7 linked regions of the Homo sapiens genome follow. The protein of the gene in region 2 purifies or fractionates together with the protein of the main gene of each other region. This does not show direct contact. Each region holds a gene or a part of one and is shown on either strand. Other genes may lie near its edges. The genes, in order: MVD, HMGCS1, NFU1, SEPTIN2, ERN1, SPDL1 and NMD3.

What was found.
Region 1: the proteins of HMGCS1 (region 2) and MVD fractionate together in Homo sapiens (co-fractionation; one large-scale study listed by BioGRID). This does not show direct contact.
Region 3: the proteins of HMGCS1 (region 2) and NFU1 fractionate together in Homo sapiens (co-fractionation; one large-scale study listed by BioGRID). This does not show direct contact.
Region 4: the proteins of HMGCS1 (region 2) and SEPTIN2 fractionate together in Homo sapiens (co-fractionation; one large-scale study listed by BioGRID). This does not show direct contact.
Region 5: the proteins of HMGCS1 (region 2) and ERN1 purify together in Homo sapiens (affinity purification with mass spectrometry; one large-scale study listed by BioGRID and IntAct). This does not show direct contact.
Region 6: the proteins of HMGCS1 (region 2) and SPDL1 fractionate together in Homo sapiens (co-fractionation; one large-scale study listed by BioGRID). This does not show direct contact.
Region 7: the proteins of HMGCS1 (region 2) and NMD3 fractionate together in Homo sapiens (co-fractionation; one large-scale study listed by BioGRID). This does not show direct contact.

The regions. Positions count from the first base shown.
Region 1 is NC_000016.10:88,656,544-88,660,505, reverse strand, and holds part of MVD (diphosphomevalonate decarboxylase), read left to right. Parts: intron 1-1,785; coding exon 1,786-1,856; intron 1,857-2,476; coding exon 2,477-2,591; intron 2,592-2,923; coding exon 2,924-3,070; intron 3,071-3,258; coding exon of another isoform or gene 3,259-3,360; intron 3,361-3,962. UniProt on the Homo sapiens protein: Catalyzes the ATP dependent decarboxylation of (R)-5-diphosphomevalonate to form isopentenyl diphosphate (IPP).
Region 2 is NC_000005.10:43,299,592-43,303,553, reverse strand, and holds part of HMGCS1 (hydroxymethylglutaryl-CoA synthase, cytoplasmic), read left to right. Parts: intron 1-3,962. UniProt on the Homo sapiens protein: Catalyzes the condensation of acetyl-CoA with acetoacetyl-CoA to form HMG-CoA, which is converted by HMG-CoA reductase (HMGCR) into mevalonate, a precursor for cholesterol synthesis.
Region 3 is NC_000002.12:69,395,240-69,399,511, reverse strand, and holds the end of NFU1 (NFU1 iron-sulfur cluster scaffold homolog, mitochondrial), read left to right. Parts: intron 1-3,221; coding exon 3,222-3,266; 3' UTR 3,267-3,386; downstream 3,387-4,272. UniProt on the Homo sapiens protein: Iron-sulfur cluster scaffold protein which can assemble [4Fe-4S] clusters and deliver them to target proteins.
Region 4 is NC_000002.12:241,346,694-241,350,655, forward strand, and holds part of SEPTIN2 (septin-2), read left to right. Parts: intron 1-1,440; coding exon 1,441-1,498; intron 1,499-3,379; coding exon 3,380-3,481; 3' UTR 3,482-3,510; intron 3,511-3,962.
Region 5 is NC_000017.11:64,046,383-64,050,344, reverse strand, and holds part of ERN1 (serine/threonine-protein kinase/endoribonuclease IRE1 precursor), read left to right. Parts: intron 1-1,142; coding exon 1,143-1,290; intron 1,291-2,359; coding exon 2,360-2,487; intron 2,488-3,962. UniProt on the Homo sapiens protein: Serine/threonine-protein kinase and endoribonuclease that acts as a key sensor for the endoplasmic reticulum unfolded protein response (UPR).
Region 6 is NC_000005.10:169,596,964-169,600,925, reverse strand, and holds part of SPDL1 (protein Spindly), read right to left. Parts: intron 2,451-3,962; coding exon 2,347-2,450; intron 1,955-2,346; coding exon 1,767-1,954; intron 1-1,766. UniProt on the Homo sapiens protein: Required for the localization of dynein and dynactin to the mitotic kintochore.
Region 7 is NC_000003.12:161,227,542-161,231,503, forward strand, and holds part of NMD3 (60S ribosomal export protein NMD3), read left to right. Parts: intron 1-3,962. UniProt on the Homo sapiens protein: Acts as an adapter for the XPO1/CRM1-mediated export of the 60S ribosomal subunit.

The sequences.
Region 1 (3,962 bases), on a different chromosome or scaffold from region 2:
ACCTGGCTAATTTTTGTACTTTTAGTGGAGACGGGGTTTTGCCATATTGGCCAGGCTGGTCTTAAACTCCTGACCTCAAGTGATCTGCCTGCTTCGGCCTCCCAAAGTGCTGGGATCGTAGGTGTGAGCCACTGAGGCTCACCAACAGTGATATTTATGGAAACGTGTCCATTTTCTTGTAACGTTCAGAGACTCTGGTCTTCTTTAAACCTTACGTTTGAGCTGGTTTTTGATAGCGCGCTGGTGGAGGAGGGGGTGCTGGCTCAAGATAAGGAGGCAGAAGTCCAGGTTCCCCTCCCCACCAACGCTGTCCCATCCCCACCAGGCCCTCAGGAATTCCTGAGTGTCTGCTTGGCCTCTGACAAGAGCCGGCAGGTCAGGGGAGTCCAGTCTCCCGTGTGCTCTCCAATGACTCCTGGGGAGGTGAAAGTCCCCACTCCTTCAGGGAGGGAAAGGGGGCGGGGCACTGTTCCAGCCTGGAGTGTGGGAGGGATCTGTTTCTTTTTTTCTTTTCTTTTTTTTTTTTTTTGAGAAAGGGTCTCCCTCTGTTGCCAGGCTGGAGTAAGGCTGGAGTGCAGTGGTGCCATCTCGGCTCAGTGCAACCTCCGCCTCCCAGGTTCAAGCGATTTTCCCGCCTCAGCCTCCTGAGTAGCTGGGATAACAGGCGTGCGTCACTACAGCCTGGCTAATTTTTGTATTTTTAGTAGAGATGGGGTTTCACCATATTGGTCAGGTTGGTCTCAAACTCCCGACCTCAGGTGATCTGCCCACCTCGACCTCCCAAAGTGCTGGGATTACAGGCGTGAGCCACCGCGCCCGGCCAGGAGTCTGTTTCTGTGTTGCTAGGCTGCCCTTCCTGGTCCTGCTAGGGAGGGCTGGCTTTGGTTGGCAGTTCCAGCTTCTGCAGGGCTAGGTCTAGGGCAAGCAGAAAAGAAAGCCCCGGGCTCCCCCTGCACTGTCCCACAGCCGCCCTCTGTCACCCGTGAGAGTCTCACCTGTGATGTCCAGGGTCTCAGTTGTCCCCAGTGGGAGGAAGCGGGAGAAGTCCCCTGGCCCACCTTCCTGAAAGCAGAGGTTCGCCCGGCCTGTCAGGGCAGCGGCGTCCGCCTGCAAGGGGGGCCGCTCAGTGCTGTGCGTGAAAGAGCCTCGCGAGCTGCAGGGCGTGGTTCTCTGCCAGGTGTCCGCGTTTATCACCCCTGGAACTGTCCGCCATCCTCAGAGACCTCCCCTCGCACAAAACCGAGCAGATGGTGTGCTTAGCGAAGCCGCCGTGGAATAAGACTTCAGCTGAAGCACCACGCAGCGCTCCCAGGGCAAACGTTTCCTTTCGGGCTTTCTGGAAGTTTGATTTCACGTGCTGTCCCATGGCCGTGCTGGGCAGAAAGGGGTTTATCCTGGATGTTCCTGGGGCATATGAGCAGTGAGATGTGAGGAGTTCTCAGAGCTGGGCTCCTTTTGTTTGGGAAGGTGGAGGGGAGGCAGGCCGCGGTGGGAGCGATCCGCACCTGGGCACTCACGGATGCTGGAGTAGAAGCGATGAAGGAATGGGGAGCGGGGACGGAGGTTGGCTGGCCTCCAGCTCTGCTCTGGGAGCCTGAGCTCAGTGGGGTGGGAGCAGTTCTTGCAGGCCGGGGTCTGGCAGGAGGAGGGGCACACAGGTTGTGCGGTGAGAGACGGGACTGAGGCGGATGGGGGCCGTGGGTGGGGGGTGGGGGCACCTGTGGGGAACACTGGGGGAGGGTGGGCCGGGAAGCCCACCGGCCTGGCCCTGGCTGTTCATTACAGGGGGCAAGCGCGATGAAGAGCTGGTTCTGCCCATCAACTCCTCCCTGAGCGTCACTCTGCACCAGGACCAGGTATGTGTGGACTGACGACTAAACACCACAGTGCCATTTCCAGAACATTTGTAGAACAGTTGGTACCCGTTGGGTATGGTGGCTCACATCTGCAATCCCAGCACTTGGGGAGAGTCTCTTGAGCCCAGGCATTGGAGACCACAGTGAACCATGATCGCACCACTGCACTCCAGCCTGGGTGACAGAGTGAGACCCTGTCTCTGAAACAAAAAAAAAATTGGTACTTTTTTACCTAAAGGCTAGGATGAGATGGCCTAGCGACGACTCCCAGCCAGCACGCAGTGTCTGTTCCATCTCCCAGTATTAGGAGAGCTGAGCACAGCACACATGTGCCCCCAGGTCTCGTCACACATGCGCACACCGTGCCCCAGGGGCTCCCCTGGGAGTCCCCGTCTCTTTATTCAGGATAAGGCCTGGTTGCTCCACAAGGTGTGGCCCACGCTTTCATCCCCCACGGGCTTCCCCACTGCCCAGCTGAGACTGGCCTTTCCCCCCCTGCCCTCAGCAGGGCTGACCTTGCTCGAGTGGGCAGCCATGAGGCTCTCTCAGTAGAAAGGGGTACCTGGCTGGCATCGGTCCTCAATGCTGGCCTCTGAGGTGGCCCTGGGTTTCCTTTTCAGTTAAAAACCACCACAACAGCCGTCATCAGCAAGGACTTCACCGAGGACCGGATTTGGCTGAATGGCCGGGAGGAGGATGTGGGGCAGCCGCGGCTGCAGGCCTGCCTGCGGGAGAGTGAGCTGGGGTCCCCATAAGCCCATCCCTCCCTGTTGTCAGCAGGGTCCGAGCATCCAGAAAGTGCTTCTGCCTCTGTGCCCCTCCTGAGGCAGCAGGCGGGGTGGCTGGGAACCAGACATGCCCGCTGGGCCGCCAGCTCCAGGGCAGTGGCCCACCTCAATGACCAGCTGGGCTTGGGTCAGTCTGGGGTTTTCCCGGGTAAGAAACTCTCCACGAGGAGTCTGGCAGGCAGAGGCCTGGTGTTCAGCTGTGACCCCGGGCAGGTGGGCAGGAGCAGGGCGGGCAGGGTGCTGACGGCTGGGCCACACGCTGTCTCATTGTCTCTGCAGTCCGCTGCCTGGCCCGGAAGCGGAGGAACTCACGGGATGGGGACCCGCTGCCCTCCAGCCTCAGCTGCAAGGTGCACGTGGCATCGGTGAACAACTTCCCCACGGCTGCGGGCCTGGCCTCCTCAGCGGCGGGCTATGCCTGCCTAGGTGGGTGCCCACAGAGACCCGCAGGGGTTCTGGGCTGTGGGCGCAGGAGCCACTTCATGCTCTTCCCGGGTCAGGGAGCCCACTGCTGGGCGTGGCTAAAAGAGCATCCCCTCACCCCAGGCCTCCCTGGCCTCTCTGGAGTTGTTCAGTCTCTTCCCAGAGCACATCTGAACATTTTCATCTTCCAGTTGCAGCTGGCGTGGGGCTCTCGCCTGTAATCCCAGTACTTAAGAGGCTGATGGGGGAGAAGCACTGTAGGCCAGGAGTTCAAGACCAGCCTGGGCAACATAGTGAGACCCCCCCCCATCTCTACAAAAAATAAAAAAATCTTCCCGTTGCTGTATGTGGAGCCCCTCTAGATTGTCAGTGATAGAAACCACTTCAAACTGGCTCAGCCCTAAAATAGCGATGATTTTGTGGCTCACGTAACTGAGGATTCCAATGGGCACAGCTGGTTGCAGGCCCCGCTGGACCCAGCTCTCTGCTGGCCCCAGGCCACTTGCTGGCAGCTTCCCACCCACTGTCAGAGCCTGTCCCCCCGGTGGTGGTCTCACACCATCTTCACCCCTCAACTCCAGGGGTGACGCTTCCTGGCCCACCTGGGCTCCTGCGCCTTCCCTGAACCACCCTCGGTGACCAGGGTGGGTGACCAGACCTGGAGGTGGGGTTGCCCTGCTGGAGCCCTGTGGGAGGAGGGGAGAAGGTGGCTCCCGTGCTGGGTGGGCAGGGGGCGCGTCTTGTGGAGTCCAGCTCTGTCCTGGCATCGGTCCCTGCCCCACACAGCCTTAAAATTCCTTCCCACCCTCAAAGCCCAGCTTGGGTGTCCTCGGGGGCCTTTCTCCCGCCTTCCATGGGGCTTCCTGCTCTGCCGCAGGTACCTTTTGTTGCCCTT
Region 2 (3,962 bases):
TGCTTAGGTGCCACAGCAAAATACCATAGAGTAGGTGGTTTAAACAGCAGACATTTATGATCTCATAGGTTTGCAGTCTGGAAGTCAGGGTGCCAGCGTGGTTGGTTCCCGATCAGGGCTCTCCTCCTGGATTGCCCGTGTCCTCACATGGCATAGAGAGAGTATGACAGCATGAGCAAGCTCTCGTTTTATCTTCTTATAAGAGCACTGATCCCATCATGAGGGCCCCATTCTCATGACCTCATCTAAACCTGATTATTTTCCAAAGGCCCCATCTCCAAATGCCATCACATTGAGAGTTAAGGCTTCAACATATGAATTTGGTGGGGAAACCCAGACATTTCAATCCATAATTCAGGCAGATATTTGGGAAGTAACACAGTTGAAGCACTGAATGCTATATTTCGTACTATCTAAAGAATCTAGGATGTAATAAATTTAAGATGCTTCATTGCCAATTAAATTAAGATACAATGCTTTTTTGATTACTTAGAATTTTTTAAAGAGCTCTTTTAGAGTTAGACATAGATTTTTGTCATATGTCACTTGCACATTCAATAAGATGGAAAACACAAGTGAAAAAACACATAAGGAATTGCTAAATTTCACATATTTAGAGTCTGCCTTCTGAATTGTTTTTGGAGTCAGAGTTGTTAATACCTGTAATTTTCCGTTAAACATCCTCTGTGCCGCCAAGAGAATTGGTGATGTAGCATTCCTTTCAAGATCCCAAAAAAGAATGCGAAGGTTTTGGTGCTGGCCTTCAGCTTTGCAATTATGCAAAGCCAGCCTACTTTGACTGCTGCTTAGGGATTCCCCATCTTCTACTTCCTTCCCAGTCCATTTGGTTCCTAGAGGGTGAAATGAATGCTCCAGTATCATTTCTGGGAATTTCTTTCAGGCTGTTGACTGTCATATGCAAATGTCATGCTGGCAGTTTTGTTATTTTCCCATGTGTAAGCAATGACAACATCATAATTGGCTTCTGTCTGATAGCAATTGTAAGAGGAATCCCAATTTCTGAAATGTTACCCAAAAAAGTGACTTTAATTGACGAAGTATGATGATGTAGAAGGATAGGCAAGAAATGCAAAAGGTAATTTAGAAAGGTTTCATGGGTAAAATGTGACCTATGTGATCTAGGGCTATAAAGGATTTCAATAAGCAGAAGCACGAGGTGGGTTGTTGAAGAAAGCACTAAATGTTTTTGGATAAAGAATATAATAATTTGAGAGTAAAGGGTAGAGGGAGGGTTATGTAGGTAAGTAGTTGTAAGATGGGGAAAGATTGGGTAGTATTTAGCATTTATCCTTAATGTTGACTTCAGTGTAGTTCTCTTTGTGTGTTTTCTAGTATAAACTGCATACATGAAAGTTAAGAATCTTGTGTTAAGTCCCATATAGGAAGGAAGTAGATAGGAAAACCAAACTGGAAAAATGTATGGAGATGTTGGTGAAATGACAGGAACGAAAGCAGCTTGTCTGAGCTTGATCTCTTCACTTCCTCAGTGGTGGTTCTGAGCGCTGGTTTGGCTGAACTCCACTTACCAGGGAAAAGGGCATAAAGTAAACAGGGTTTGTGTGGAAGAAGTGGAGTAGAACAAAGTGGAGAGGATCTCTGTTCATTTAGTGTATCTGACAGTGTGCTTGTCAAGTCATAAAACACTTGAGGATGGAAATCTGGAAGTCATTGTATACATTTTCTTCTTTCCCTAACATCTAGTCAGTTACAGTTTCTGCCAGTTCTTTTGCTTTTTCCATGTTTTTGGAGGCTGTTCCTCTTCGCTCCACATGTAGTAAATGCTCTAGTTCATGACCCATGTCTTATCTGGACTGCCATGTCAGCTTCCTAACTCATCCATTCACAGCACCAGTGACTGTAAAACAGCATTAGTGAGGATAAAACAGTGGCTGTCAAACTTTTTTGACTGTGGCCCCCAGTAAAAATACACTTTGTATTGCAACTTATGTATACTTTATATATGTATGAATAATTAAAACAAAAGGTTGATTCAAGAAAAATCTTTACATTTACCCTGTGCCATGCAATCTTATATCTTGTATTCTTTTCTGTTTCATTTTTTTAAATGTGTGCTTGCCATCCACTAAATTGATTCCGGAGTTGGAAAAACACTGACCTGACAACTAATATCACCATGTTATTCCTTAAACTCTCCGATGGCTTCTTACTATCTTCATGATAAATTTGAAGCCCTCAACATCAGCATACCAGAACCTTCATGACCTAACCCTTACCTAGTTATTCTAATCTATTATTTACCTGATCCACTCAGCTCACATTTCATTCCAATAGACAAGTAAAGTTTTTTGTAATTCCTTGTAGCTTGCCTTTCTTCATGGTGTCCACTCTGTTGAAAATCTACTACCCTCCATTTCTTCAGTGCTTTACTGCTTACTCCTACCCATTCCTGGGGCTCAAGTCAGGCCCCTATAACCAGGATGCTTTTCCTAACACTCCTTGCCCTACCACCAGGCTGGGTTAGGTAGTTCTCCATTATATAATGTGGTTCTCAATGTTGTTACCTGTTTATTATTATGTGTTTTTCTCTTATTGTCCCATAAAATAGTGAATATTCGAGAGGATAAGGAAGTCTCCCATTAAGCATCCCTAATGTTTAGTATGTAACATGTTGGCATTGGTTGGATGAATGAGAAAAAAAAAAGATTCTTCTGTTTGGAAGGAAGATACAACTGGTATCCCTTAAGTCTTTTCTTTTTTTTTTTTTTTTTTCCTTTCTCTATAGACAAGGTCTCACCATCACCCAGGCTGGAGTGCAGTGGTGCAATCACAGCTCACTACACCCTTGTACTCCTGGGCTCAAGTGATCCTGCTACCTCAGCCTCCCTAGTAGCTGGGACTGCAGGCATGCACCACCATGCTCAGCTCATTTTAAAAAAATTTTTTTTGTTGAGACAGAGTCTTGCTATGTTGCCTAGGCTGGTCTTGAACTCCTGGGCTCAAGTGATCCTCCTGCCTCAGCCTCCCAGAGTGCTAGGATTATAGGCATGATCCACTGCACCTGGCCCCTTAAGACCTTTAATTGCAGAGCAGCAGAGGACAAATGACATAAATACAGGATTTGACTTTCATTTTTAAGTATCAAATTAGTGATGGGTTGACAAACAAGTCATACAGAATGTTCATGAATCAGTTCGGCCCAGGTAACTCATAACCCAAGACCTTTGGGTCAATGAAATTCTGCCACCTAAGTAGCACCATCCAATGATGTCATACCTAAAAAGGAAATTGAGTTGTAGAATTTTAGGTTTTAGGATTCTTTCTCTAAAACTGAGGAGCTGTGCCACTCTTCAAAGCCTCACAATTACATTTCATTGGTTCTTATGCCATCTGGGTTCTGGTTAGAGGGCTGATGGAAGTACTCAAGAAATATTGGAAGTACTCAAGAAATATTAGAAGGTGGGAAGAAGGTACCTCTCTTGTTCTTGTCAGTGGCAGCACCAACAGTGGGACTTTGGGTCTCTGGGTTCCAGCTCAGCAGCAGAGGTACTAGTACTGTAGCTCCAGCAGCTTCAGCAGGAGTGCAGGCTCATGGGATCAGAGAACCACCTTTTCCGCTTTGTTCTTCCAGCCCAGCCAACAAGTTTGTAGCTATTTCCCTGCATTAAAACTCCCCTCTGTTTGAAATATCTATAGTAATTTTTCTTTTCCTGACTAATACAACCTGTTAAAGAAGCTGAAGCTCTGGTAAGTTAAATGCCCAACAATGGTCTTGAGTAGCTAGTGATTTTTGTTGCTATTGGTAAGTAAATCTAGACACTACTTTTTAGTCCCTTTTTTAAAAGAGGACTGGTTTATCTATGATGAATACATGATTGATTGATTGATTGATTGATTGATTTTTACTTTTTCTTTTTTTTTTTTTGAGACGGAGTCTTGCTCTGTCACCCAGGCTGGAGTGCAGTAACATGATCTCTGCTCAC
Region 3 (4,272 bases), on a different chromosome or scaffold from region 2:
CTATGTATTCTTAAATATGCAAGCAAGAAGCCCATTAAGAAATCATAGTTTGTTGTTATACTGAGTAGAATTCTAGAGCTTTACGTGTAGCACAATATCAACATTTTTTTTTTTGCCAACATACCTAAGGAGTATAACACAGCACCTTGTCATCAGTAATAATGAGTCTCACTGCAGTGATTCTCAACCAAAAAGCATGGCCTTATGGAGAGAGATTATCAAGGAGTGAAGGGATGTGTGGAAATTAGAAATTTCCAACCCACAGAATTTCAGGTAATTCATTCTTTTTTTTTTTTTTTTTGGAGACAGAATCTTGTTCTGTTGCCCAGGCTGGAGTGCAGTGACACGCTATCTCGGCTCACTGCAACCTCCACCTCCCAGGTTGAAGCAGTTCCCATCCCTCAGCCTCATGAGTAGCTGGGATTACAGGCACATGCCACCATTTTTTGTATTTTGTATTTTAGTAGAGACGGGGTTTCATCATGTTGCCCAGGCTGATTTCAAACTCCTGAGCTCAGGCAATTTGCCCGCCTCGGCCTCCCAGAGTGCTAGGATTACAGGCATGAGCCACCGTGCCTGACCACCTCAGGTAATTCTGTGCCCTTAAGGGCTCCATTGGGAATCACTCATCCTTGGGTAGTATTAAAATTCATCTGTTCCACAGTGAGCAGGTCTATATAGACCTATCCCCAAAGTCTTAGGGAGCTGAGAGGCTGAAGACAGAGGCTGGCAAATCCAGTTGGTCAGAAAGAAACATTTAATAGGGACTGAGGAACAGAAGCCATTTATCGGGCAGCTGCAAGATGATGGATTCCTGCATTGTTACCCGCTAGACTCAGGGCTTATATACCAGGAGGAATGGGTATACATGCTTCAGAAGATATGTGTAGGACAATTGAAGTCAGCCCCTCTGGAAAAGGCAAGAATGCTATTTGCCTAATAGCCTATAATTTGCTTAAGGGCAAGATTTATGCTAAGTATGTGTTTGTTTAGGATAACATCAAGATTATTTTGACCTAAAGGCAGAATTAAGTAGAAAACTTAGAGGCATTCCTAGAACTGAGGGTAGTCAATGTGGCAGATTAGCATCCAAGATGGAGTTGCTTTAGCCTCCACACCATCGTTTTGGTCCAGTACATGACATCTTCTCTTTGAAGTTTTTATCCATCCCCCACTTGGAATTAAGTTCTTCTTTGACAGGTCCAAAGCTTCTGTTTTTGCTTTATGTTTATGTAGCTTTCTGTATCTGTTTTAGCTTTATGTTTACGTGGAAGCTCCCTAAGAGACTTGAAATCATATCCAAGTCTTTGTGTTCCTCTGCAACAACTAGCTGTGTGCCTTACAAATGTCCTATACATGCTTTGTATTAAGTATTTGGGAATATTATTCCAAATTAAGGAATAATTCTGCCTAAAATATGAGTTGGTTGACAAAATTTTTTGGATTGGGTATTGTTGAAATTGGATGTAAAATATTAATTTCTTGGGAATAAATACCAATTTTTACTCAACCAAAAAGACAGCCTATGAAAGAATTCTTTTTCTATTGATTGTCTCAGATCAGAGCCAGAATCTGGATTTTTTTTTTTTTTTTTTTTGAGACGTAGTTTCACTCTTGTTGCCCAGGCTGGAGTACAATGGCTTGATCTTGGCTCACTGCAGCCTCCACCTCCCGAGTTCAAATGATTCTCCTGCCTTAGCTTCCCAGGTAGCTGGGATTACAGGCGCGCGCCACCACGCCTGGCTAATTTTTATATTTTTAGTAGAGATGGGGGTTTCGCCATGTTGACCGGGCTGGTCTTGAACTCTTGACCTCAGGTGATCCACCTGCCTCAGCCTCCCAAAGTGCTGGGATTACAGGCATGAGCCACTGTGCCTGGCCTAGATTTTTTTTAAAAAAAAAAACCTTACTTTGTTCCATTATCATCTATATGCCTTAAAAAATTATGTTAGTTGATACTTTGGTGGATTGACTGAGGAACATTTTTATTCAATTGTCCAGGGTAGGGTGATGAATTGGCCTTCAGATTAGAAACTTGAATTGGCATCTAATTGTAGTAGGTGTGGTGAGGAGAAAAAAACATTCTTAGGTTTATGTAACTTTTTCCTTCTCCAATGGAGTTAGTCTGTTATCTTAGTAATACATTAACTCATGGAAAGATAATAGCTGTTGTAACATTTTCCTGAGGCTTAAAATGATCTTTTATCTCAGTAAGACTAAAATAATTAGTTCCTAATATGGTGGGGTTTTTTTGTTTTGTTTTGTTTTTCACTTTCCTTGGGGATTCATTTTAATAAAAATAAATGTTTTTAAAATAACAATTTGGTATAGCTTCACAGAATATATTTAAGTAAATAAGATGGTTTTGAAAAAAAGAAAAAGTCATTTACATTAGTCTTATGGCTAGAGAATACCAGTTAAATTGTTTTTTTTTTTTTGAGACGGAGTCTTGCTCTATCACCAAGCTGGAGTGCTCTATCACCAGGCACTAGGCTCACTGCAACCTCCACCTCCCCAGTTCATGCCATTCTCCTGCCTTAGTCTCCCGGGTACCTGGGACTACAGGCGCCCACCACCACGACCGGCTAATTTTTTGTATTTTTAGTAGAGACGGGGTTTCACTGTGTTAGCCAGGATGGTCTTGATCTTCTGCCCTCATGATCTGCCTGCCTCAGCCTCCCAAAGTGCTGGGATTACAGGCGTGAGCCACCGCGCCTGGCCCCAGTTAATTATTTATAGTCTTTTCTGCCCAGCTGAGACTCTGCTATGGGTAGCCTCTTTGAGACAAGGAGAAGTGATCAATGCTTTAATTAATTTCCAAATATTTAATTTGCTTTTATTTTATTTTATTTTTTTTTTGAGACAGAGTCTCGCTGTGTTGCCCACGCTGGAGTGCAGTGGCGCGATCTCGGCTCACTGCAAGCTCTGCTTCCCAGGTTCACGCCATCCTCCTGCCTCAGCCTCCCGAGTAGCTGGGACTACAGGCGCCCGCCTGGCTAATTTTTTGTATTTTCAGTAGAGATGGGGTTGCTTTTATGTTTTTAGGATACCGGGTTATGATTCAAACCTTGTTCTTTGGGGCTGTTGATAGATTTATTCTTACTGGCTTGTCATGCCTCATTATAGAGTGTATCAGGTAAAGAAGTAATATTAAAATCAGGAAAACAGCAAAATCTAATCATTTTCTTAATTCTTAAATTGTCTTTGTTTTTTGGTTTTAGGTTATGGATGATGAATCAGATGAAAAAGAAGCAAACTCACCTTAAAATAATCTGGATTTTCTTTGGGCATAACAGTCAGACTTGTTGATAATATATATCAAGTTTTTATTATTAATATGCTGAGGAACTTGAAGATTAATAAAATATGCTCTTCAGAGAATGATATATAAATATTGCATGTTTGCTTTACCTCATATGAGTTATTTATAACCTCTTGAATCATCTTCTGTACACGTGGATTTTATCCAAGGATATTTTTATTTTTGTCCCTCATTTCCCATGGCTCTTTCTTTGCATATGTGTGAAGGAGTTTAAAATACATTTCCCCCCATCTAATTTATTTACTTTTTTCCATACAGGAAGAAACAGAATGCTTTTTAGAATATTCTAAAATAGCTTTTTGTGAAATATCTAAAACTATTTTTACTGAAGTTTTTAGCTTAAGAAACAGCTAAACAAGTCTGTTTTAAAAATGGTATCTGGCTACTAGCCCCCAATTAAGTAGCAAAGAACTGCTTAAGACCAAAAAAAAGAAATCAAAAATGTCCGGGTATGGTGGCTAACGCCTATAATCCCAGCACTTTGGGAGGCCGAGGTGGGCAGATCACGAGGTCAGGAGTTTGAGACCAGCCTGAACAACATGGTGAAACCCCGTCTCCACTAAAAATACAAAAATTAGCCGGGCGCGGAGGCACGCGCCTGTAATCCCAGCTACTTAGGAGGCTGAGGCAGGAGAACTGCTTGAACCCGGGAGGCGGAGGTGGCAGTGAGCTGAGATCACGCCACTGCACTCCAGCCTGGGGGACGGAGCGAGACTCCATCTCAAAAAAAAAAAAAAAAAAAAAAAAAAAAAAGGTGAAAAACTTGAAAACTAACTCCCAGAATCTGGACACAGTTTCTATTGGTTAAGATGGAGATGGCCAAATTAGAAAAACTGCCTCAGCATGCCCAGCCTTTACCTTATCAATCAGAATTGCTGAAGAAAAGAGAAGAAGCTGCTTTGGTCCTCCCACTGGCTTCTGACTCAGAGATCCAAAATCTGTACCATGCC
Region 4 (3,962 bases), on a different chromosome or scaffold from region 2:
AGTGAGCCATAATTGCACCACTGCACTTTATCCTGGGCAATAAAACAAGACCCTGTCTCAAAAAACAAACAAAAACTTTAGATGGAAAGGCCAGAGGCTTGTGTCGAGTTCTCCTTCAAAAGCATCACTCTGTACGTGAGGACAAACTTGTTGCCATTAGGAAACTGCAGCACCTGAGTTAAGGGTGAGGCCAGGATGAGTGGCATCCAAGCAGCCAGTGGCCGTTGAAGCAGCAGCTTCGATCCTCGCAAAGTCCTGCAGCCATCCTCACTCACCTTTTCTTTTTAACCATTCTAATATGTTTTTATATAAGTTTTCTGGGAGGCCAAGGCAAGTGGATCACTTGAACCCAGTAGTTTGAGACCGGCCCTGGCAACATAGGGAGACCTCGCCTCTATAAAAATTTTTTTTAAATTAGCCAGATGTGGTGGTGCATGCCTGTGGTCCCAGCTACTAGGGGGAGGATTCCTTGAGCCCAGTAGGTCCAGGCTGCAGTGAGCTATGGTCGCACCACCACGCTCCAGACTGGGCAACAGAGTGAGACCCTGTCTCAACAACAAAAGTTTCCTGTGTTGTAATTCATTAAAATTCTCACATTCTAATAATTTGATGGATTTCTAGATACATATGTTGTACACATTGAAGTCTAATTATGAGTTTGGAAATGAGACATTAAGAAAGATTTTAGAGGCAGCAAGAAAATTCCACCCTCTGGAAGCTGAGTAGGCGCTGGCCCTGAGATGGAGATTAGTGTGCTTTGCAGAGCACAGTTCTCAGGTGTGCTTGGGGAGCTTACCCTTTGCCCCTCGTTCACTCACGCAGATCCTGCTCCTTAAATGTGGTGACTACATTCGCATTAATAAAGAATAACATCTCAAAGCAAATTCTTCAGATAATACCTATTTTTGAGTGGGTAACAGCAAGTGTTGTCGCTCAAGCTTAGAGTAAGAAAAGTCTCTTGAATGTTCCATTTCATGTTGTTCGAACTTTTTAAAATCATTCTGTTCCCTTTTTATTCATTATATCTTTAATTAGAAAAATGATAGGCTGGGCGTGGTGGCTCATGCCTGTATTCCCAGCACTTTGGGAGGCCAAGGTGGGCGGATCACTTGAGGTTCAACACCAGCCTGGCCAACGTGGCAAAACCCCATCTCTACTAAACACAAAAAAAATTAGCTGGGCGTGGTAGCACGTGCCTGTAATGCCAGTTACCCAGGAGGCTAAGGTGGGAGAATTGCTTGAACCTAGGAGGTGGAGGTTGCAGTGAGCCAAGATCATGCCACTACACTCCAGCCCGTGCGACAGAGTGAGACACCATCTCAATATAAAAAGAGAAATGATAAATACATGTCATTTTAAATTTTAAAGTAGAATTTTTTGGGGGGGTAGCAAATAACTATTTGTTGCAGTGTTATGATTCTGATTTCTTTCGATTCTTAGGAAAGTGGAGAATGAGGACATGAATAAAGACCAGATCTTGCTGGAAAAAGAAGCTGAGGTAAGTAGGAAAGTACTATTGGTTGGTTGGTTGGTTGGTTGTTTTGTTTGTTTTGAGACAGAGTTTTGCACCATTGCCCAGGCTGGAGTGCAGTGGCGTGATCTCGGCTCACTGCAACCTCTGCCTCCCGGGTTCAAGTGATTCTCCTGCCTCAGCCTCCCGAGTAGCTGGGACTACAGGTGCCCGCCACCATGCCTGGCTAGTTGTTTTTGTATTTTTAGTAGAGACGGGGTTTCATCATGTTGGCCAGGCTGGTCTCGAACTCCTAACCTCAGGTGATCTGCCCACCTTGGCCTCCCAAAGTGCTGGGATTACAGGTGTGAGCCACCGTGCCCAGCCAAAAAGTACTATTCTTGTGACTGAAGGTGTTTTGTTTACATCCGTAGATATCATTGGTAATTAACTTAAAGTTTATAGTTTTTTTTTTAATTTGTTGAGGAGGATACATATAACTACTTTATTACTATATATACACATCTATATATAATAATAAACATGGATATTTACATAGCATACATGATGCTTCATATATTTAGCTGAAAGACTTTGGAGACAATTTAGTAATGTCACTGATATTTGTAAGTAGATCATAAATATGGAAATATGCTCTGTTGTAAAGGTGGCATTCAGATCTGCTGGAGTTTTGGAAGGCAAACACATTATTCAGTAAACAATAGGATCATAATGGGCTAGCCTTTTGGAAACAAAAAGAAAATACTTCTTTGGTCAAATTAATTCAATATTGATCAAATATTTAAATGTTAAAAATAACCACAAAGTCACCTGAAGAAAATTTAAATGTTTTATAATACTTTCCTGGAGGCATTTCTGAACACATACAAATCATAATGATAAGGATAAAGATGAATTAACATTTACTATTTTTGGCCAGGCACTGTGGGTTACACTTATAGTCCCAGCACTTTAGGAGGCCAAGGTGGGAGAATCACTTCATGCCAGGAGTTTAAGACCAGCTAGGGCAACAGAGTGAGACCCCCCTCGTTCTCTAGAAAAAAATTAAAAAATAATTAGCCATGCATGTCGGCATGCACCTGTAGTCCCAGCTACTCGGGAGGCTGAGGCAGAAGGATCCCCTGAGCCCAGGAGTTCAAGGATGCAGTGAGCTATGATTGTGCCACTGCAGTCTAGCCTAGGTGAAAGAGCAAGATCCCATCCCTTTAAAAAAAAAAAAATATATATATATGTATATGTATGTATATATATTATTTTTATTGTGAGGCCTTCATTGCCCTCCAGAAAAGCTGATTCATTCCCATTCCCCTTTACTTTGCATTTCTCACTGTCATCAGTCTCTTTCCCTCCTTTTAGGTTAGAAAACTTCTCATATTGGCCGGGCGCGGTGGCTCACGCTTGTAATCCCAGCACTTTGGGAGGCGGAGGCGGGTGGATCACGAGGTCAGGAGTTTGAGACCAGCCTGACCAATGTGGTGAAACCCCGTCTCTACTGAAAATACAAAAATCAGCTGGGCGTGGTGGTGTGTGCCTGTAATCCCAGCTACTCAGGAGGCTGAGGCAGGAGAATCGCTTGAACCCGGGAGGCGGAGGTAGCAGTGAGCCGAGATTGCGCCACTGCACTCCAGCCTAGGAGACAGAGTGAGACTCTGTCTTAAGAAAATTTATCATATTGTCTTATCTTTCTTTGGTTATTGTTTCTGTTTGGCTTGCATATTCGTATCATTTACTTGATTTTCTCTTTAGCTGTTGCTTTTTTTATTGATTGGTAAAAAGTCTTTATGTAATAACTCCTGTCATATTTTGGGAAGGTGTAGAAGTTGAAATTTTAGGAATCACAGAACACCCAGAAATAATGTTCAAAGACAGCAAACCTTGAAAACCTATAATGTGTGTGTGTGTTCACAGCTCCGCCGCATGCAAGAGATGATTGCAAGGATGCAGGCGCAGATGCAGATGCAGATGCAGGGCGGGGATGGCGATGGCGGGGCTCTCGGGCACCACGTGTAAGGTGATGTGCACATATCAAGAAGTCAGAGGTAGGCCCTGTTGTCCCTTAGCCTGGAAGACAGGCAGTTACTAACATTGTGTCAGCTTAAATATGACAGGTTCCTCCTTAAGCCTCATTAATATTTTGCATTTTGAAGTAACTCCATCACTAATCTTAAACAAGGAGAGATTGCTCCTGAAAAACAGAAGCCACTACTTTGCCACCTACTTTCTAGTAAAGATTTTTCATATTTTTGTCTCTTCTTTTTTTTTTAAATAATTTCAACTTTTATTTTATTGGGGTACATTTGCAGGTTATTTTCTAAGCTTGCAAATACCAACATTAGAAGGAAATTATGTATTAAAGCACTTTTATTAGTTGTATTATTGGAAATTTGTTAATTGTTAAAACATCTCTTTAAAGGGAATAAAAACGTGTTATTAAAACAGCTTGTACAGATTAAAAGTAGAGATGGCACAAGGAAGAAGAATTATGTGAGGT
Region 5 (3,962 bases), on a different chromosome or scaffold from region 2:
TTAGTGTTGTCTGTGCTGGGGACAGCAGGCTGCAGAGAGTGTGGGGGGCGTGAAAGACCCAGAGAGCTCTGGGAGTCAGGGGCGAGCTCCAGCTGTGGTGGCCATGTTCCTCCTGTCCCGAATCCAGCACCTTCCTAAGGGAAAATCCAGTGAGGTAGAATAAAGCATGGTAGGTTTGGAGATTGGAAGACCTGAGTCCCATCCTGGTTTATCACATCCAGCAGTGACCCTGAGCTTGTCATGCAACCTTTCTGTCCACGTTCTCATCTGGGGATGAAAGCATTTGCTCTGCTCGCCTCACAAGGTTGTTGTGAGGCTGAATGAGAGTGCTGTGTTGTTCAAGGTGTGTCTCCTCCAGCATGGGAGGTGATGAGCCCCTGCTTCCTCACACTAGACCCTCACTTCACCTGGTGGAGAATCTCAGAGGCAGGGCCTACTAACAGGGACCCAAGCTGTGCTCAGGAACCACCTTGGTATTACACCCCAGGTAGCATGAGCTAAAAAACACAAACGTACATTTCCCTCGAAGGAAGCTATTCTGTAGACACAGAATGGTTTCATGGGATAAGTGAGAGGCTTTCTCGGATTAACATCAAACATGACCTCCTTGGTAACTTGTCAGATAGTTTCTTTCTAGGGCTGTTTTTGAATCATAAGCTGTTTTATTCACTTATTAGCAATTTTGATACCTACTGTGTGCAGGCACCATTCTGGGCCCTGGGGGTACAGCAGGGAAGCAACGACACAGAGACCCTGTCTGTGAGCACTTTCGTGTTGGGGGTAAGGAATATATAACAGCCAGGAGGGCTTTTGATGGGCCAAGCACTGTCGTAAGCAACCATTTTTGCATATTAATGCATCTCTTTTGACAACAGCCCCATGCTGTCAGTGTCCTCATCTCACATGAGAGGGAACCAGGGGCTTCCAGGTGGCTCCAAGCCCAGGTTCTCCACTGGGACCTCTGACACCCATGCAGTGCTGCAGGTTAGCCCTCGCTGCTCTGTGCAGCTCACATATGTCAGCTGATTCTCCCAGGACACCTTCTAGGTGGCAGAAGCAGCAGCAATGCTCCTCCCTCCCTGACTGTGAGTGAGGATGAAAACTCTGCTCCCAGACCTCTCACGCCTCATGTCTCTTTTCAGACCTACACGGTGGACATCTTTTCTGCAGGCTGCGTCTTTTACTACGTAATCTCTGAGGGCAGCCACCCTTTTGGCAAGTCCCTGCAGCGGCAGGCCAACATCCTCCTGGGTGCCTGCAGCCTTGACTGCTTGCACCCAGAGAAGCACGGTGAGCGGTCCAGGGGTTGGGGTTGGGAGCAGCTCCTCAGCTGCCTCAGGTGGCCCTGCAGAGCTGGGCTGGTGCCACCTTTGCACTCACAGAGGCCGTGGTGCCCCAGCTGCTCACCCCGCAGGCCTCAGGACCTCCAGACTTGTGCCAAATCTGGTAGAGGGTTGGTAGGGTTATCTCTGGGGCGCCACCTTCTAAAGCTGAGATGCTCCAAGGTTCCTCCAGGTCACCAACTACTTGTGTGACCTAGGCAAAGCCCCCTTTGGAGACCTTCTTTTTCTACCTGGTGACATGAGGGTTGAATAATCAGAGGTCCCTTCCTGCACTGGCATTTGGGAAGACAAATTGTCTTCTCTCTTGGGATGGCGAGTGGTCAGTAGGTGCAGTCTGTGCTGGGCTGGGGACAGACAAGCTTTATCCTCACCCTCCTGGTCTCCTGGTATGGGTGCAACAAGTCTTTCTTCCAGACTTCAGGTTTTCCTGGGTGGTAATTGGCCCATGACACTCCAGTGCTGCCTTTTGAAAAAATTACAACTAAATTATTGTTTTGTTTATGCTTAATTTTTCTTATTATAGAAAACACAGATTAGCATAAAGGCCCATATATTCCCATTATACAGGGATGAATGATGGCTATTGATACCTTTGCATATACGTTATTCCAGTCATTTATCTAGACGTGATTGCATATTTTATAAAAATACAGTTAAATCCTGCATACTGTTTTGCAGCATGCACGTTTTTCAGCGTCACCTTGAATCTCTCTCCACGTCAATCCATATTTAGTCACAGCCGCACTTTAACAGCTCATGGCCCAGCGTAGGGAGGCACCGTAGTGTATCCACTTGGGCCTCTGATACTGGATGTTTACAGTCACTTCCTTCACAAACCATGCAGTGAGGACTCACCTCTTTGGCTGAGGTTTTGTGTCTGTTCCTAATTATTTTATTGGAATAAATTCCTGTAAATAGAATCATAAATGAGAGGGTGTGCAGCTTTTTAAAGTTTTTGGTATTTCACTGTGGCTTTGGACTGGTAGTCATGAGTTGCTTATTTTCCTCCTTTATAGAAGACGTCATTGCACGTGAATTGATAGAGAAGATGATTGCGATGGATCCTCAGAAACGCCCCTCAGCGAAGCATGTGCTCAAACACCCGTTCTTCTGGAGCCTAGAGAAGCAGCTCCAGTTCTTCCAGGTAGAGACGTCTGTTCTCTTTATCCAGAGTCTTCATTTAATGTTTTTCAGATTTTGAAAATACAGAAAAGGACAAAGAATAAAATAAATTGCCCATTACCCTAAAACTGGAAGATAATCATGGCTGATGTTTTAATGTTTTCTTCATATATAAAAGTATAATTGGGATCTAACCGTATATACAGTTTCAGAATCCCTTTTTTTAACTGTACATGATATTTTAAGTTTCTTTCATGTTAAAGTTCTAAAATTCCAATGACCATAGTATTCTATCATATGGATGTGCCATAATGGTTAAGCTTTATATTATGGAATTTCCAAATATATAATACATAAATGTTTAAATGCTATAATGAGCACTCCTTTATTCATCCCTCAGGTTCAATAAATATTAACCTTCACCCTCTCCCCACCCCAGGTTATTTCGAAGTAAATCTCAGGCATCATATAATTTCATTCAAGTGTCATAAGCTTATTTATTTATTTTTATTTTTTTTGAGACAGCGTTTCACTCCGTTACCCAGGCTGGAGTACAGTGGTGCAATCTTGGCTCACTGCAACCTCTGCCTCCCGGGTTCAAGTGATTCTCCTGCCTCAGCTTCCTGAGTAGCTGGGATTACAGATATGCACCACCACGCCTGCCTAAGTTTTTTTGTATTTTTAGTAGAGATGGGGTTTCACCATGTTGGCCAGGCTGGTCTTGAACTCCGGACCTCAGGTGATCTGCCCGCCTCAGCCTCCCAAAGTGCTGGGATTACAGGCATGAGCCACCAGGCCCAGCCCAAGTGTCATAAATTTCAGTGCTTTCTTATATTGTATTTGTTTCTATCATCTTTTACACAGTCTTGGCCCAGATCTCCTTTTGCTTAAAATAGGTTCTGCAAAGTTAGAACTCCTTTGGTGATTTGACTGTTTTAAAGCTTTGTGACAATGTCAGGTGACTTTTGAAGAGGTAATGTGTTTTTCAAAGTCTTCCATGTATGAATTGAACATAACTCACCCGAACGCCTCCTGCCCAGCACGTGGCTCTGAAAGCAGGCTTGTGGGGCAGTGCTTTTCCCCTTGGGTCCAGGCAGAGTGCAGCTTGGTGGGCACCGTACTGAGAAGTGACCATCATGCTCTCCTGGGGTCTGACTGGGGCCTTGGCCAGAGGGAAGCCCCCAGAATGTAAGCTCCTCGAGGACAGGAGTGCTTGACTGCTGCATTCACTACTGTGTCCCTGCCTCCTAGGGAGGACGCTGCCTGGCCCAACCATTCAGATGGATCGGGTTGGGAAGAGTTTAATGCTGTCTTCCATGTTGTAGCATATGGATTGGTCACTGTGTCCATGGACATAATGTGAAAATTCTCAAGTCCATATGTCTTCCAGGGACTTGTGAAAACTAACCAGGTCATTTTGATCGCAAAATATAGAACAGGAATAAAACCCACACAAAGGGACCTTCACCCACCAAGGGACAGGATTTAAATGCTTAG
Region 6 (3,962 bases), about 130 Mb from region 2:
GTATGTGACAGCCATGTCTTTGGGGAATTATTTAACCTCTCTGAGCTTCATTTTATCTGTAAAATGGGGATTAAAAGCACCCACTTCACTTGGTATTGTGTATTAGAAGGATTAAATGACAAGAATAGGCCAAACTTTCTGAATATTGGTAATATATGCCTGTTAGCTCTACCTACAAAATATAAGCAGAATCAGACTACTTTTATGATGGATACTTCCCTAGTCCAATCCTATCATGTCTCATCAAAGACTACTGCAATGCCTTCTATCCTCATGGCCTAATATCATTCTATCTAAACAGGTCATAAACACAGCCACTGAATTAACTGCTCTAATATCTTTTCCCTATGCCCATTATCGATGTGTTTCATTTTCAAAATCAAAATGTTAGTGGAGTCTGAGGAACACTGGTAGCACAAGGGGTTGCTGTTTTTGCTCTACATTGTTGCTTTTAGACCATGATTTCCCCTTTTTCTGGCACTGCTCCTTTGAAACCCACATTATCAGGATTCACTACCCTGCCTCCTGTCTATTTGCTGTGTTCAGTTCAACAGATGTTTGAAATTCATAATGGATAATTCTTAATCAGGGGAGCCTATTAGAATCATGGAAGAAACAAAAAGAGTTAAGAGCAAGAGAAGCCTTTTAAAATTGTGTAAAAACCTTCCTATTTTTGGCAACCTCCCCACTATTGTTGAGAATCATAGCAGTTCACTGAGACAATACGAAGAGAGACTGAGGCATGTGCAGAGTGCGGGGACAAAAACTTGTTGAGAATCCTTAACCTAAAACATGTAACACTCTTTTAGGGAAGGGGTGTTGTAGAACCATCACATTCTTAGACTCCTTCACACTTGGCCTTTTGTTTTTGAATTTACATACAGTAAACTTCACTCTCTGTAGTATATAAGATGCAGAGACTGTATGGTTAGGCTACTTTCCAGCTCAGTCATTAGACTTGCTAGATATTCCCTAATATGTTTCATTGTTCTTTCCTTTCCCCCCCATTTTGGTGGAGAATGGGGTCTTGCTATATTGCCCAAGCAAATCTCAAATTCCTGGGCACAGCTATCCTCCTCCCTCTGCCTCCCCAAGAGCTGGGATTACAGGCACGAGCCACCACGCCTGGCTCACTGTTCTTCCTTAATAAAAGAATTCCCAATATTTAGTTAGGAACATGGCCCCTGAGAATCAAGACTGCATTTCTCAGCCCTTCCTGTCAGCAGGTGAGGCTGCATGACTAAATTCTGCTCCACAGGATGGCAGCAGACCAACAAACACAAGAAGCCTGAATCTTGATACCGTGGAGTGCTTTCCCAGTCCTGGAAGGCCTCCTCCAGACTTCCATCAGAGGCAGAGATAAAGACCCACCTTTTTAAAGTCTCCATTACTTTAGATTTTCTATAAACAGTCCTACCTCGTATAGCTTCCAAACATCAGCTGCTTCAACATAATTAAACTATTAGGTATGACATAAAATACTGTAATCTTAAAATGGGAAAGTCTCAAATCTCAAGTTTCTACTATACAGTATGATGAAATTAGATATCCAAAAAGGATACATGTTATATTCAGGCACACCCAGTATCCAGTTCTCCCTGAATTTTCCTACCTATTTTACACAATAAATTTGCTTTATTAACTATAGGTATATAACTACAAATGAGTTTGTAATAGAGTTGCATAAAACTACAGTAAGAAAATAATTTGATATAATTTCAGGTTACTCATAATTTAAAAGACAAAAATATATGAGACATATATACCTTCAGGTTCATATTTTAGTTTCAATTCATCTAGTTTAGCTCTCAGTTTCATATTTTCACTTTCTGAAAGCTGGAGGCATCTTTCATTTGCAAAAAGTTTTCGCTCAATATCTAGAGCCCGCTGGCTCTCAAATAATGCTTTCATTCGCTGTATGGACAATTCACCTTTAGTGCTTTCAATTTCTTTGCTATGATAATAAAAAAGGAGAACCAACGAGTATTAAGACAGCATATAATAAGTGTAGTGGTATAAATATTTCATCGCATATTTGAATTCTTAGTTAAAAATACATTTTTCTGGGGTTTTTAGTAACAAAGAAACAATAAACAATTTAAATAATCCTTAACAATAGTAGTGTTAAATTTAAAAAATACTCATGCATTCTTGAAAGGAAATGGACAAAGGAGGAAATAGTCTTTCAAATGTATTCACACATGAATATCTGCACAAAGATATTTTTGTTACCTTTCTTTTCGGAAAATTTCCTTTGGCAATTTCAAAAAAACTTTGTAGTCACTGACACTACCATAGTAAGCAAGTGACATGTTCATCTTTCCATCCACCAACCCAGACACTTACTTTAAGTTATCCAGCTTCATCTGAAGTAAATCTGTATAATAGGTGTTATCTTCCAGAGTACCAGAGTCGACTGAAGGCTTAGATTCCATACTGTCATATAAATTCTTAAAAAAGCAAAAGTTTGTATTACTTAAAATAAATAACAAATAAGGTTAGTGTATGTTTATTAATAATAGCACCATCACTTCCTGAATTTATATCCCTTGGCGTACTACGCTAAGAACTACCCATTTAATTTATCTGCCTTCTGAAGTAGGTAAATAATTAACATTCCTCTCTTACAGATAAGGAAACAGGCTCCGAATACAGATGAAAGTAAACCAAGAAGAGAGAACCTGAACCCAAATCTGACTACAAGGCCTAGGCTTCTAGCCTTACCTACATGCTCTGCCTTCTCTCTCCTGGCTTTGAAAATAGAAAAACAAATGCCTGCTGGATTAAATTCTGGCCTTTGTAACAAAACCATAAACTGGAAAAATATGAAAGGAAGATGAGAGCCTTACATTTATATCTGGTGTCCCCCTCTTCTGAGATTCTTCCCCCCACCCCAGGCAAGAATGTAGTGCAAGCTCTTCTGAGACTGATGGAAACTATACATTTCTCTAGTGGGATAGAAAAGGTAAATCTGCTTAAAAACTTGAAACAATTTCAGGTTATAAATAAAATTCCCCTGATTTAAGGCCATAATTTTCAGAGTATAGTTCTGAGCCCACTGATGGAAACATAAGGCTGCCAACTTAACCAAATTTGTAGTTCTTTCAACAGTTTTTATAAGACACAGAAATAAAGTTATGTAAACTTAATTAAGATTTTATGACATACTAATGGCTACAATTTAGAATGCCTAAGAGGTTATTAACATTTACAAAAATTTGTCATTTAGAACTTTAGTTCATTAGGAGGTTAATGAAGATATCAATGTTCCCTAAGTCAATTTATAAAATCTTAAATTGCATGCAATTTTAATAGAAAGCCAACAAGCTTTTTTTGGTGCTAGACAAGATGTTTGTAAATGAAAGCTAACATTCAAAAATAGACAGGAAAATACTGAAAAATAAAAAGTATAGTGAGGAAATAGTCCTACCAGATAAACATACTTAAAAGCCTTTATAATTAATAAAACAGTGTGGTACAGACACACAGAGAAGCAGACCAATGGCGTAGACAGAAAATTTAGAAACAGACTCAAGTATATATGGAAACTTGATGTATGATAAAGGTGTCAACTCAAATCACTGGGATCAAGATTGATTTTTTAACAAATGACTCTGGGACAACTGCCTACTTATTTAGAAAACATGGGTGAATTCTTACACACACACACACACACACACACACACACACACAAATGCTTACACAAATACCATTCTCAACTAAAATAAACCAATGTTCCTTGAAGAAATGCTAATCCCAGAAGTGGGCCAGGTGAGCTAGGAAACCCTTGTTGTGCCATAGAGTAAGGAAATATTCAAGTAAGAGCACTTCGACTATCAAATCTGGGACAATTTGAGTATCAGAGTAAATAAAGCAAGCAATGGATTATAACTCATAGGATAAAATAAGAATCCATGAGGCTATACTGATATAAATGAATGAGTAAGTGAGGAAAAAGATTT
Region 7 (3,962 bases), on a different chromosome or scaffold from region 2:
GGTTCACACGATTCTCCTGCCTCAGCCTCCCAAGTAGCTGGGATTATAGGCGCACACCACCACATCTGGCTAATTTTTTGTATTTTTAGTAGAGACAGGGTTTCACTATGTTGGCCAGATTGGTCTCGAACTCCTGACCTCGTGATCTGCCTGCCTCGGCCTCCCAAAGTGCTGGGATTACAGGCGTGAGCCACCATGCTGGCCTCGAAAGTAACTATTAAATGTTACTATTGTTGCCAGTAGCACCCCACTACAAACACTTTTTAAAGTTATATATATTCTTTTTATGAAAAGTAAAAATATCTTTTTGCTTTAAAAAGACAGAATTTAATTTTTTTCCTTTGTTATTTATCGAGAATCTCATGTATAATTTTTTAACGGAAATTTTTATGTAAAACCATCACTAAACATAATTGGGATTATAATATTAGGGCTATGTTATTTGGTTTCTTTTTATTGTCATTATTGATCTGGAAATAAAATATTTGTGCCTGTCACTGAAAGTCAGTGCATAAATGTATTAAAAAAAATAGTTTGTTTAAAGTACAGTTTATTTCCTGATATAAAATTGAAAGTGATTGACACTATGAGTTTTCTTTATTTTAAGCTTTATGACTCACTTCTACCATGTTTTTAATTGAAATTGACTCTTTCAGATTGAAGACTTTTCTGATTCTCCTTTAAGCTCTAATAAAATTTCATGTAATAGTTCTTTGAAATTTCTGCCTTTATTTTCCTACTAGGTCCCAGCCAACCCCACAAATTTCTGATGGTCACTTTTTGGCGCTTCTGGCATAAAACTTTGTCTTTTTCCCTTCATATTTTAAAAAACCTTTTTGGTTTTTTTCGCTCCCCTCTGTTCTTGGTGATTTTTACTTTATCTTCTAATCTTTCTAATGAATTGTTTTTTTCCAGTAGTAATGTTTTTAAGTTCCAGAGTCTTTCATGTTCTTGATGCATTTTTTTTAAGTTTTTCTGAAGATTTTGATAATAGGACTTTTTTTGTTTCTTTCTGTTCCCTCATTTGTCTCTGTTTTTTTATGAAGTCAGTTTTTTGTGTGTCTTGGTTTTTTGCTTTTATACTTGGGGTTTTTGTCAAATGTCTAGTGAGTCTTAACAGTTCATTAATTAATTCATCAGATGTTTATTAAGTACCAACTCTGTGCCAAACTGCTTTTGGTGTTGGGGATATGGCAGTGAATAAGGCAATCCCTGTCTTAGAAAGCGTGTATTCTAATTGCACACTAACATGCCAGTGTGGAGCAGCATGTTAGTATGCAGCGATCAAAATAGGTGGATATATTACATGGTATATTAAAAGGTATATTCTGTGGAGAAAGGAGCTAGGAAGAGGATAAGAACTGTGCATGGAAGAGTTGAAATTTAAAGTAAGGGTGTTTAGGGGAGGGCTCACTGATAGGGTGACATTTGAGTAAACACTAAAGATTACAGTAAGGGAGGAAGCTGTGCAGAAATGTGGAGGAAGAGCATTAGGGGTAAAGAAAACAAATGTAGAGACCAAAAGCAAGAGCATACTTGTGTGAATAGAACGGAGTGGTGAGGGGAAAAGTAGTTGGGGATAGAGTCCAGAAAAGTCATGGAAGGCCACAGTGTGTCTGGCCTTGTAGGCCCTTATAGGGGCTGTTTCTTACTCTGAGTGTAAGGAGTATAGAGGGTGAAGGGCAGAGTAGTGAGATGACATGACTTATTAGTATTCCTCTGGCTGCTGTTTTTAGAATGGTTGTAAGGGAGGTAAAGGTGTTTAAGTTTTTGTAATAATCATGAGAAATGGTTTTGGATCAGCAATGGAGGTGGTAAGAAGTGGACAGATTTTGGATCTATTTTTAAGGTAGTAACATTTACTGATGTAGCTGGATGTGTTTTTGTAAGAGACAGAAGAGTTAAGGATGCCTTCCACTGTTCGTGACCTGAGCAGCCAAGTCACTGGGTAGGGGGCATGAGAGTTCATCTGTAACTGGTATTTAGATGTCTACTAGACACTTAAGTAGAAATACTGAGTAGGCAGGTTGATAAATAAGCCAATGAGTGGTCCAGTCTAGAGATAATGAATTTAGGATATAGATAGTATTTAAGGTCATGAATTGGATTAGATTATTTCAGGAGTTTACATAGAGAAGGAAAGAAACTGGAGGACTGAATCCTGGAATCATTCCTTTAATGGGTAATGATGAAGAAATAATTGGGTAATGAGGAGGAATCAGCAAAGGAGACTGAAAGGAGCTGCTAGGAGGTAGGAGGAAAACAGGGTGAGTGTGATGTCCTGGGAGGAAAGGGAAGTGTTTTAAGAAGAAAGGAGTGAGTAGCTATGTGATTTGCAGCTGATGAGTCAAGTAATGAGTTCTGTAGATTTAGTAATGTGGACGACCTTAATAACATGGGCAATTTCTGTTTAGTGGTGGTGGTAAAGATGTCATTTAAATAGAAATTAAAATGGGAGAAGGAAGATAGACAGTTCTTTTGAGATTTGCTGTAAACGAAAACAAAGAAATGGGGCAGTGGTTGAAGGGGAAGTTGGGGAAGGGACACTTGTCTTTTTATGTTATTTTATTTTTTGGAGATAAGGTCTTGCTTTATTGCTCAGGCTAGAGTGCAGTGGCGCTGTCATGTCTCACTGCAGCCTCAAACTCCTGGGCTCAGGTGATCCTTCTGCCTCAGCCTCCTAAGTAGTTGGTACTACAAACATGCACCACCACACCTGGCTGATTTTTATTTTTACTAGAGGTGAGATCTCTCTCTTTCTCTCTCTTTTTGGCCCTGTAGAGCAGAGATCTCACAATATACCCAGACTGGTGTTGAACTCCTGAGCTCAAGCGATCCTCCTGCCTCAGCTTCCCAAAGTGTTGGGATTACAAGCATGAGCCACTGTGCTTGGCCAGGATACATTTCTTAAGATGGTATATATAACTGTATTTGTAAGCTCTCTGGGAGTGTTAGAGTACGGAGGGAAATTTTTGTGAAATTGCAGGGAGAAGAATAATTGGCTGGGGGGTGGCCTCAATAAGTGGAAAAGAGATATAGTACATAGTGAAAGAATACATTTATTTGTTAATTCACTCCTTCATTCAACAAGTATTCAGCACTTACTCTTCACCAAGCACCATTTTGGGAGGCTGTAATATTTCATGGAACAAAGTAAAGATCTCTGCTCTCTAGAGGGGCATTCTGGAGGTTGATCTTGATGGGAGTATGGATAATTCATCTGTGGTAACAGCAGGGAAGGTGTTGAGTGGGAGCTTCTGGGAATTCTCCTCTGGTTCCTTCTTTTGTACTGGAGAAAACAGAAGCGTGGGCAGTAGCTATGTGGGAAGAGCTGTTAGATAGATGTTTGAGGAGAGAGCGGAAGATATGAAATAGTCCTCTAGAACTAGAGGAAATGCACCAGGACAGTGTTGGATGGGTGCTGGGCAGTGCTGAGGGTTACTGTTACAAGTTTAGACTAGTCACTGTGGTGTGCATCTATTTCTGTAGTTCTGTCAGCCACATAGTCAAGGCATAGAGCAGGCAGAGCACTGGATTTAACCAAATTTATAATTTAGCCTAGTGGCTAAGGTGAAATAAGAGAGGGAACAAGGAAATTGAGTGTGTACATGAGAATAATTTTGATTATTGATTTTGAAGCTAGTGAGGAGGAATGAGGAATAAAGTTGGTAGGATGAATGGATTGTCCATTATATTAGCTTGAAAGATATTTGGTGCCCAGGAACTAGAGGAAATAAGCTGGAAAGATGGGAGGTGGTAGTCAGGGAGTAGGATGTTTGGAATTGATAGTTTGGAGGGTTTGCAGTTACTGGTAATAGAGGCATATGAGTGACTGAGATAGGAAGGTGGATAATATTTTGGGAGAAGAAGAACTCAAAGAATGGAGTGAGAGGTCAGGGTATTGTGGGGATCACCTGTGTGGATATTGAAATCGCTAGGTATTAATATTGTTGGAAAGTGTG